2 separate regions of the Homo sapiens genome follow, and region 2 is linked to region 1. Evidence: fine-mapped expression QTL. Tissue or cell type: naive CD8 T cells. Region 1 holds a variant in brackets; the other region holds the start of a gene. All regions are shown on one strand. Distances are from middle to middle. Region 1 overlaps ACACB (acetyl-CoA carboxylase beta). Region 2 holds the start of ACACB (acetyl-CoA carboxylase beta).

Region 1 (5,377 bases):
CCCATTTCTATAAAAAATTTAAAAATTAGCTAGGTGTGGTGGTGCACACCTGTAGTCCCAGCTACCCAGGAGTGCACTGAGGTGGGAGGATTGCTTGAGCCCGGGAGTTTGAGGTTGTAGTGAGCTATGATCCTACCAGTACACTCAGCTAACAGAGTGACAGAGTAAGACCCTGTCTCAAAAAAAAAAAAAAAAAAAAAAAAGAATGAATGAATCAATGTCTCTTCAGGAGGCAGAGAGAACTGCCCCTCCCTCTAGACTACCATCATCACTTGTGGCTCTTGCCAGCCTTGGCTCATTCAGCTTAAATTATAACTAAACACAAGGTCATCTTCCCCAACTAGGCTGAGGTCTTCTAGAAAGTCAGTTTCATGGCATCGAGCCCTGTGCATGCAGTAGATGCACAAGGAATGATTTCTTTCCTTTTTTCCTTTTTTGAGACAAGGTCTCGCCCTGTCACCCAGGCTGGAGTGCAGTGACGTGATCTCAGCTCACTGCAACCTCCACTTCCTGGGTTCAAGAGATTCTCCCGCCTCAGCCTTCCAAGCAGCTGGGATTACAGGCACACGCCTGCATGCCTGGTGAATTTTTGTATTTTTAGTAGAAACGGAGTTTCACCATGTTGGCCAGGCTAGTCTTAAACTCCCGACCTCAAGTGATCTGCCTGCCTTGGCCTCCCAAAGTGCTGGGATTACAGGCATGAGCCACTGTGCCCAGCCTCAAGGAATGATTTTGAAAGGAGGGAAGGAAGGAAGGAAGGAAGGAAGGAAGGAAGGAAGGAAGGAAGGAAGGAAGGAAGGAAGGAAGGAAGGAAGGAAGGAAAGAAGGAAGGAAGGATGGAAGGAAGGAAGGAAGGAAGGAAGGAAGGAAGGAAGGAAACTTCTGAGAAGGCTCGTGTCTTCTCCTTTTGTGCATAGCCACCCTTGAAGCTTTGGCATCAGCAAACAGCTTGATCAAGGTGGGCACAGGTTGGGAAGGGTGTGGACCCCACCTGAACTCTGCACTCCTCAGTTACAAGGAGAAAATGCACATTACCTCATAGTGGGGACGCGGGTCTCAGCTTCACCTGTGGTCAGATAAGCCTCCAGGGACAGGGCCCCCAAGCTGGCCCGGCTGCCCTTCCGGGTAGACTCACGAGATGAGCCAGCAACAGAGTCCTCGTCGGAGGAGTAGTCATCAAAAGAGCCCAGGATGAAGTTGGTCATCAGCTGCCTCTTGATGTTTGCCTGCTTCTTGTCTTCTTTGGAGGGGGAGCCAGCTTGCTGGCCCTGGGGCCTGGCTGAGGAGGACAGGCCATTGGTATCTGTGGCCTCCAGACCTTGTGTCCCAGTCCCGTTGGCTTGAAGCTCTGGGGAGGGTGCTGCGTCACTGGAAGAAAGGGGGTTTCTTGGGGGCTTCTGGTGGGAGGGTGGTAGGGAGTTTCTCCGCCGACCGGCATCTTTGGGGCCTTTGTGGGAGGCTGGCTCGGCCTGGCTGGGTGTCTTGGGCAGAGTGTGGCCCTCCCCATTTCTCTGCGGTGTCTCCCCTGAGTTATCAGAGGCTGGAAAGGGCTCCTGGCTCGGGATGAGGTTTGCTTCTGATTTACTCTTGGTGATCGGCTTGGAGTCCGTCATTTTCCCCCAGATTTTTAACCAGGAAAAGGTCAGACAGGAGAAAATCAGACAAGATAGACAAAGAAGCAAGACCATTCAGAAAATCTGTAAGGAGAAAAGGAGAGACATTTTAGGATTTACATAATCAAGTGATTTCTCTCCTAAAGAAGCTAGTGGGGCAGGAGGCTGTTGGGGTGCTGTGTATTCCTGAAATACTGGACGAGGGGAGAGATGGGGTTCTCCTCCCTGCTCTGCCTGAAACAGGCTTGGACATATTCCTTCACCCCTCTGGATCTTAGTTTCCTGCCAAGGTTCAAGGAAGAACCTTGAAAACTGCTAAGTTAAAGAAGCCAATCACAAAAGGTCACATATTATACGATTCCAAGTATATGAAGTGTGCAGAACAGGCCAATCTTGAGAGACAGAAAACAGATTAGTGGTTGCCAGGACCTAGTGGGATGGGGATGATGGCTACAGAGTGTAGGGTTTCTGTTTGGGATGATGAAAATGTTCTAAAGCAGATTGAGGTGATGGTTGTACAGCTCTGTGAATACAGTTAAAAAACATTGACTTGTCCTTTACATGAGTGGATTGTATGCCATGTGAATTATCTCTCAATAAAGCTGGGGTTTTTTTGTTTTTTTGTTTTGAGATGCAGTCTCCCTTTGTTGCCCAGGCTGGAGTGCAGTGCCGCAATCTCTGCTCACTGCAAACTCCGCCTCCTGGGTTCAAGCAATTCTGCCTCAGCCTCCTGAGTAGCTTGGGCTACAGGCATGCACCACCATGCCTAGCTAATTTTTGTATTTTTGTGGAGACAGAATTTCACCATGTTGACCAGGTTGCTCTCTAACTCCTGACCTTGGCTTCCCAAAGTGCTAGGATTACAGACGTGACCCACCGCGCCCAGCCAAAGCTGTTATTTTTTTTTTTTAAAGACTCTTAATTATATTCCACTTTATAAATGAAAGGGAATTGTTGCTTCTGTCATCATCATCATCATTCTAGTATTATTATCATATAGTCAGTCACCATCATGGCCCTGGAGGGAGGAAGGGCGCCATCATCCCCAGTGTGGGGTATGCTTACAACTAGCATAGAAGCCCAACAAGCCTCGGGAGACTGTTTTCTGTTGCAGGGTCTAGACCAGTGCCTGGTATGCAATGAGGGCTTACAAGTGTGTATTGAAAGAATGAACCCAGGTATTCCAATCTCTAAGCCACACCTCTTTCTATCACCCTAACTCTGCCCTACTAATGAGTAGATCATTGTTATTTGAAGGAAATCTTGTTTTAAAAATGAGCCCAGTGCGGTGGCTCATGCCTGTAATCCCAGCACTTTGGGAGGCTGAGGCGGGCAGATCACCTGAGGTTGGGAGTTTGAGACCAGCCTGGCCAACATGGTGAAGCCCTGTCTGTACTAAAAATAAAAATACAAAAATTAGCTGGGCATGGAGGTGGGTGCCTGTAATTCCAGCTACTCGGGAGTCTGAGGCATGAGAATCACTTGAACCTGGAGGTGGAGGTTGCAGTGAGCTGAGATCATGCAACTGCATTCCAGCCCGGGCAACAGAGTGAGACTTGGTCTCAAAAACAAAAAAAAAAA[G/AG]AAAAAGAAAAGAAAAGCCCAGGAGGCAGAGGTTGAAATGAGCTAAGATGGCACCACTGCACTCCAGCCTGGACAACAGAGTGAGACCCTATTTCAAAAAAAATTTTTAAATGGGACCTCTCTCTATGTGTTGAAATTTCTGAACCAATTTTGCCACAATTATATACTAGAAGCATTACAAAAGTGGACCACAAAGCTCAGCAGGTCAATTTGGTATCTAAAAATCCTTTTTTTTTTTTTGAGTCAGAATCTGACCCTGTCGCCCAGGTGGGAGCATAGTGGCGTAATCTCAGCTCACTGCAACCTCTGCCTCCTGGGTTCAAGAGATTCTTGAGCCTCAGCCTCCCTAGTAGCTGGGATTACAGGTGCCCCCCACCATGCCCGGCTAATTTTTGTATTTTTTGTAAAGATGGGGTTTCACCATGTTGGCTAGGCTGGTGTCTAACTCCTGACCTCAAGTGATCCGCCCACCTCTGCCTCCCAAAGTGCTAGGATTACAGGCGTGAGACACTGTGCCCTGCCATAAAGCTTTTTCTTTTTAAATTTCAACACAATGTTTTTAAAGGAAGTGGAAAAGTTCTCAATATTTCCCAGAACTAAACAATCCAAGTACTTCTTACACACTTTCAGCAGCAGAATTTGCTGATATGTTGCCAAGGCTATTTTCTAGGTAGTACACAGGGTCAGAGGGGTTTTTTCCTTTCAAGATCATCATGTGTTTTTTTTAAAGAAAAGTCAGTCAAGGGTGGCTCAATGTCAATGTAACATGCCACATTAATGGAACAAAGGGAAAAAAACCACATGATCATCCCAATTGATGCAGGAAAAGCATTTGACAAAATCCAACACCCTTTCATGATAACAACATTCAGAAAATTAGGAACAGAAGGGAACTGCAACTTAATAAAGTACATTTATGAAAAATCCACAGCTAACATCATACTAAATGGGGAAAGGCTGATAGCTTTAACCAGGAATAAGACAAGGATGCCCACTTTCACCAGTGCTATTCAACACTGTACTGGAAGTTCTAGACAAACCAATTAGACAATAAAATGAAATAAAAGACATAGAGATTAGGAAGGAAGAAGTAAAGCCACCCCTATTCACAGATTACATGGTCCTATATGTAGAAAGTGCCAGATAATACACACACAGAAAACCTTGGTATTGTAGAGGTAATAAAAATAATTAAGCAAAGTTGCAGGATACAAGATAAATACACAAAAATAGTTGTGTTTCTATACACCAGTGGTAAATAATCTGAAAAAGAAATTAAGAAAACAATTCCATTTATAATAGCATTCAAAAGAATAAAACACCTAGAAATAAATATGTTTAATTTCAATGTTTCCTTTTTCTATTATTGCCTATCACACTTGTTTCCTACCTAGGAATAAATTTAACCAAAGAAGTGAAAGACCTGCACACTGAAAACTACAAAACATTACTAAAAGAAATTAAAGAAGAATTAAATAAATGGAAAGACATACCTTGCTCATGGATTGGAAGACTTATTGTTAAGATGTCCATATTATCCAAAGGAATATACAGATTTATATGGAATTTCAAGAGGCCCCAATCAGCCAAAACAATCTTAAAAAATATGTTTGAAGATTCACATTTCCCAATTTAAAAACTTACTACAAAGCTATGGTAAACAAAACAGCATGGTATTTGGCATAAGATAGACATATAGATCAATGGAATAGAAACCTATACATCTATGGTCAATCTATTTTTGACATGGATATCAAGACCATCCAATGGAGAAAGAATGATCTCTTCAGGCCAGGCATGGTGGCTCATGCCTGTAATCCCAGCACTTTGGGAGGCTGAAGCAGGTGGATCACGAGGTCAGGAGATCAAGACTATCCTGGCTAACATGGTGAAACCCCATCTCTACTAAAAATACAAAAAAATTTAGCCAGGCATGGTGGCAGGCACCTGTAGTCCCAGCTACTTGGGAGACTGAGGAAGGAGAATGGCGTGAACCCGGGAGGCAGAGCTTGCAGTGAGCCGAGATCGCACCACTGCACTCCAGCCTGGGCGACAGAGCAAGACTCCGTCTCAAAAAAAAAAAAAAAAAAAGTATTACCTCTTTAACACCACATGGTGCTGGAACAACTGGATTTCCACATGCACAAGAATAAAAAGTTGGACCCCTACTTCATACCACATAC
Region 2 (5,377 bases), 22 kb after region 1:
AAAATCTCCTTCCTAGGATTGTCCTCAAAATTATGTGAGATCCCATAATTATTATGGCATACCTGGGGTATGCCAACTACCCAATAATCAATACCTTGGTTTCTCTGCTGTGCCCAGCCTGGATTCTCTGATACAAGGATCCCTGGATTCCTGGAATAAATGAACACGGTCTATCTTCCTAGAAAATCACCTTACTCTACGGTCATAAATTTACTATTATCACTGCAAACAGAGAGATCTATTAGGATAGGATGTGAAATGTGCATACATTTTTCCGATCAAATGCAATATTTCTAACTCTGTTTCCTGGTTTCCCTGGGTACAGGTGAACTCTACTTTGAAGTAACAAGTCACTGAATCACAAATTCAGAGGAAGCATGAGAACAAGGTATTCCAGGCCGGGTGCAGTGGCTCATGCCCGTAATCCCAGCACTTTGGGAGGCCAAGGTGAGCAGATCACTTGAGGTCAGGAGTTCGAGACCAGCCTGGCCAACATGGCAAAACCCCATCTCTACTAAAAATACAAAAATTAGCTGGGCGTGGTAGTGCTTGCCTGCAATCCCAGCTACTCGGGAGACTGAGACTGAGGAATTGCTTGAACCTGGGAGGCAGGGGTTGCAGTGAGCTGAGATTGTGCCATCGCACTCCAGCCTGGGTGACAGGACGAGACTCTGTCTCAAAAAAAAAAAAAAAAAAAGAACAAGGTCAAAGTTTCTACTGGGATAAGACTTCAAGGAAACCTCCATTTCAAAAGATTAAAATGTTTATTTCCCCATGAAGACTGGGTATCTCATGTAATGTAATACTCAAATTTCTGTCTCAGACCTAAAGGTGTTGAAAGTATGAGCGAGTTTACACAACACCTGAGCAGGAGCAAATAAAACTCTTAAGAGCTTCTGAAAGAAAGTTACAGATTAGAGATATTTTCATCTCTAAATCACATGAATTAGGATTGGCTGGGTCTTTCCACTTAAAACTTGGAGAAGTCATAAAAAGAAATCTTGTAAAGAACTCCATGTCACTATTAGCAGAAACATGCAATTTATAAAATGATATCTTTGGCCAGGCGCGGTGGCTCATGCCTGTAATCCCAGCACTCTGGGAGGCCGAGGCGGGCGGATCACTTGAGGTCAGGAGATCGAGACCATCCTGGCTAACACAGTGAAACCCTGTCTCTACTAAAAATACAAAAAAAATTAGCCGGGCGTGGTAGTGGGTGCCTGTAGTCCCAGCTACTTGGGAGGCTGAGGCAGGAGAATGGCGTGAACCCAGGAGGCGGAGCTTGCAGTGAGCACTCCATCTCAAATAATAATGATAATAATAATATCTTCACCTTTCAGTTTTTAAATTGCAAGTCCCATGTCCCGGGAATTCCCCGGTCCTGGGCAAAGTGGGATGGTTGGTCACCCAACCTATATGGATGCCCATTGATATTAAAAAATAAAAGTAATCACAATAGACATGAGGGAGAGAGTTGTGTACAGTGTGAGTGTACAGAATAAAAGGTCTGGGGGGTTTATACCAAAATGTGCACAGTGGCTACCTGGAGGAGGAGGGTTAGACAGGAATAACAGCAAGGAGACTTTTGCACGGTGCTGAGTGACTTTTTAACTTGCATATTATTTTGGAATGCATTTTTTCAACATTGAAAGAAAGTCATGTCTTCCTAGAAATATAGGATATAGGACCACTACAAACGCTTTACTCTTAGTCTCCTTTTTTTCTTTTTCTTTTCTTTTTTTTTTTTTTTGAGACAGAGTCTTGCTCTGTCAGTCAGGCTGGAATGCAGTGGCGCAATTTTAGCTCACTGCAACCCCCACCTCCTGGGTTCAAGCGATTCTCCTGCCTCAGCCTCCCAAGTAGCTGGGATTACAGGTGCCCATCACCACATCTGGCTAATTTTTATGTGTTTAGTACAGATGGGGTTTCGCCATGTTGGCCAGGCTGGTCTCGAACTCCTGACCTCAAGTGATCCACCTGCCTCTGCCTCCCAAGGTGCTGGGTGGCATGAGCCACCGTGCCCAGCCTTAGTCTGCTTTAAAAAAAAAAAAAAAAAAAAAAAGAACAACCATTTGAGGAAACAGAAACAGAATACTATTCCTTAAGACAGTAGCTTTGGAGGCAAAAAACAGAATTGTTTATAAAACGTTGTGGAACTTATATGGGAGCATGTCCAGGGATCCACACCACCATTTATAGAAGCAAAGAAAGGCCCTTCTCTTTCATCTGCGTTACATTTCGAGCTCTTCTGATTAGCTTCCTTCAAACATGACGGGAGTCGTTTTTCCCCGGGGACCCCAAGTGCATGCCTTCAGACAGGGTCTGCTCTCACTATACATTGGGTTCGAATTTACCTGGACGTTGGCAGAATGGTCCGGACCCCGGGGAGGGGCGAGCTGACTTACCACTTTATTCCTGCCGCTTTTCTCTTGCCATGTCCTCCCCACCGTGCATTCAGGGTTACATTTTCCAGGTTCCTTGTTTGCTGAGGGCCTGAATCTAAGCCTGCTAGCTGCTTACTCTGGGGACTGCAAATGTCACTTTTAGATTAATCAGCCCCTGCTGTTTAAAAATATCCCTGGAGCACTTAACCTTCAAAGCAGCAACAACCCGGGGCAAAGATGAGAAAGATCCCACGTCAAACCACTTGTGCAGCCCTGGCTACTCCTGGGAGAGTTCTGCTATCTGCCTTTTAATCCCATAACTCGCTTTATTTCATAATTCTTAGCTGTTGAAGCCATGAGGCATCTAAAGTCCATGTTGTCGTAAGCAGTAGGCAGAAAGTCATCTGGGCCCTCCTGTGACATGCTGAAAATTAACTGCCTACAGGTGTTGGTCATTTGAGAAACAAGCCCCCATTGAAAACCGTGAATGGGAAGGTGATCGCTATCAGGTCACCTGGCTTCTCTCCCCTGAAAAGATTTGGCGAAACCCTCTCAAATCACGCCACTTAATGGAATGTTTCCAATTTCTTGTGACTTGGGGATAAAAGAAAAAAACAGCTCCATTGCCACATTCTCATTCAGGGTTGACTGGCTCTTGCTAGGGTTGAGCACAGAAGAGGAAATTCAGCACACGCTGCAGTTACATAGTGTTCTGCAACGTGGGGAGGGCTGGCATGTGGGACAAAGGTCGCCTCCAAGGCCCAGCTGGAGAAGCCCAGCCAACTAGGCAGCAGGAAAGTGGAGACCACATAGGAGCACATTGTGCTCAGGCAACAGGGAAGGTGGAACCCACTTCCTGCCAACAATGATGGCCTTACTAAACAGCAAGTGGAGAAACTGGCGAGAGCGCTGAGCACGGGATCTGTGCAAAATGGTTTAAATGGAAATTGCTGCTGGGGCTGGTGCAGCCTGTTCACAGCTACTTTGTTTCTGGGCTTATTTTGCAATAAGGAACAGTCATTGAATATTGGACTTCTTGGGATTTTCTCCACTGGACTTGGAAGCATGTGCTCTGGAAACCTCAGCATTATCAGCTGTAACCCCACAGCACCAGGTACATGTTACAGGAACCGGGGTGAAGGAATGCAGGTCAAATGCCTGCACAATGCCCGGCCCGAGTCATATGTTCTCTAGCCACAGTAGCCCTTGTGATGGCTCTTAGTCTATTTATTAAGACAATAAAAGAGGTGACTCTCAAACAAACCTATGTTTCCAGGGAGAGCCATCTGTGATTCAAGGACATTTTTATAAAATTCCATTGAAAAAAATTCTTAGGCTTCTAACTTCATGAAAAAAAAATTCTTTCCCAGTGATTCCAAATAATCATGATCTAGGCAGGGTGTTGACAGTGGCAGGACTATTAGGCTTTGAAATCAAGCTGATGTGGGTTTGAATCCTCCCTCCATTAGCCATGACTTTGAGCAAATGGCTGAGCTTCAGTGTCCTCATCAACTACTTCACCATATGGGTGAGAAAATGAAATGATTTATATTGAGTTTCTGGCACAGGGGCTTGCTCATGACAAGCACTTAATATCTTTCTAATGAAATTCATTACTTGCAAAAAGACTAGACATACCCACACATACAGGTGAAGAACTCTGCAGTGATTCAGTTCTCCCTAGACACTATCTCTTTAAGACACAGGTATTTTCCAGAATATAATTGGAAGGCTTGAAACCAAAGTTATTCATAAACTCTTTCCATCAAACACAAGAACGGTAATAGAAATATATTTCTTCAAACAGCTGTTAGTTTCAGAAAGTCACAGGTATCAAGTTACATTTTTTGTTTTGTTTTGTTTTGTTTTAGAAATAGGATCTTGCTCTGTTGCCCAGGCTGGATGGAGTGCAGTGGCATGATCATAGCTCACTGCAGCCTCGAACTCCTGGGCTCAAATGATCCTCCTGCCTCAGCTTCCCAAGTAGCTAGAACTACAGGCACACACCACCCCTGGCTAATTAAAAAAAAAAAAATTTTTTTTTTTTAAAGACAAGGTCTCATTATGTTGCCCAAGTTGGTCTTGAACTCCTGGCCTAAAGCGATCTTCTTGCCTTGCCTCCTAAAGCACTGGGATTACAGGTATGAGCCACTGTACCTGGCCCAAAAAAAATTATTAAGTGACCACATGGTCTAACAAAACAAGGCACCTGGAAAGAAATCACCAGTCCTGCTGCAAACCGGACCCTCTGTGAGAATTCACATGCCTTCCCCCACCAATTAAATCAGAATTTCCAGGGATGGGGTCTGGCTTTGCATGTTTTAGCTTCTCTAGGCTGGAGGAGCACTAGCTTCTTGTTGGAAGGCTCCCTACCTTCCTCTCCCACACCCTCACCCCAAACATCATTAAGAGAGACAAAAGAACATGCTATATACACAACTAACAAGCAGAGAACATAAATTATTGATCTCCTGGTCTGCTCCGCTCACCAATATTTATATTTCCAAGCATATTTCAAAAACTTAAAAACTGGTTCCCTAGCCTGGGCAACTTAGCAAGACCCCATTTCTATTAAAAACTTAGCCAGGTATGGTGGTGCATACCAGTGGTCCCAGCTGCTCAGGAGGCTGAGGCAGGAGGATCACCTGAACCCAGGAAGTTGAGGCTGCAGTGAGCCATGACTGAGTCACTGTACTCCATCTTAAGAAACAGAGTGAGACTCTATCGCAAAAAAAAGAAAAAAAAATTGGTTCCCATTGACTTAAACTACAAAGGAACTTCCTGTTGTCAGACCCAAATTACAGTGTCAGAAGGACTCTAAACAAGGAGGCCATCTCCAGCAGAGGAATGTTCTAGCTTTCCTCAGCTTGAGTCAGCACAAGTCAGCATGTGAGGTCTTTTCAAAGTAACCCAGAGCACCTCCCTGCAACCTGTTTTTCCTTGCAAATCTTGAAGGTTTGGCAAGGATGAAAAGCCAACACCACACGCATACG

The links.
Region 2: it holds the start of ACACB, and the variant in region 1 is fine-mapped to the expression of ACACB in naive CD8 T cells (Schmiedel 2018, PIP 0.93).

Annotation. Positions count from the first base shown.
Region 1 is chr12:109,135,717-109,141,093 of GRCh38, reverse strand. It overlaps ACACB (acetyl-CoA carboxylase beta), which reads right to left. Exons shown (of 53, transcript NM_001093.4): 2 at 1,036-1,697. The coding sequence starts at 1,688. Among named protein-coding and RNA genes, the nearest start is that of ACACB, 22 kb to the right of the region's middle. The variant G/AG (reference allele first, on the strand shown) is at 3,195.
Region 2 is chr12:109,113,733-109,119,109 of GRCh38, reverse strand. ACACB (acetyl-CoA carboxylase beta) reads right to left here and starts at 2,523. Exons shown (of 53, transcript NM_001093.4): 1 at 2,406-2,523. It overlaps LOC105369974 (a long non-coding RNA gene), which reads left to right. Exons shown (of 3, transcript XR_945332.3): 3 at 326-456.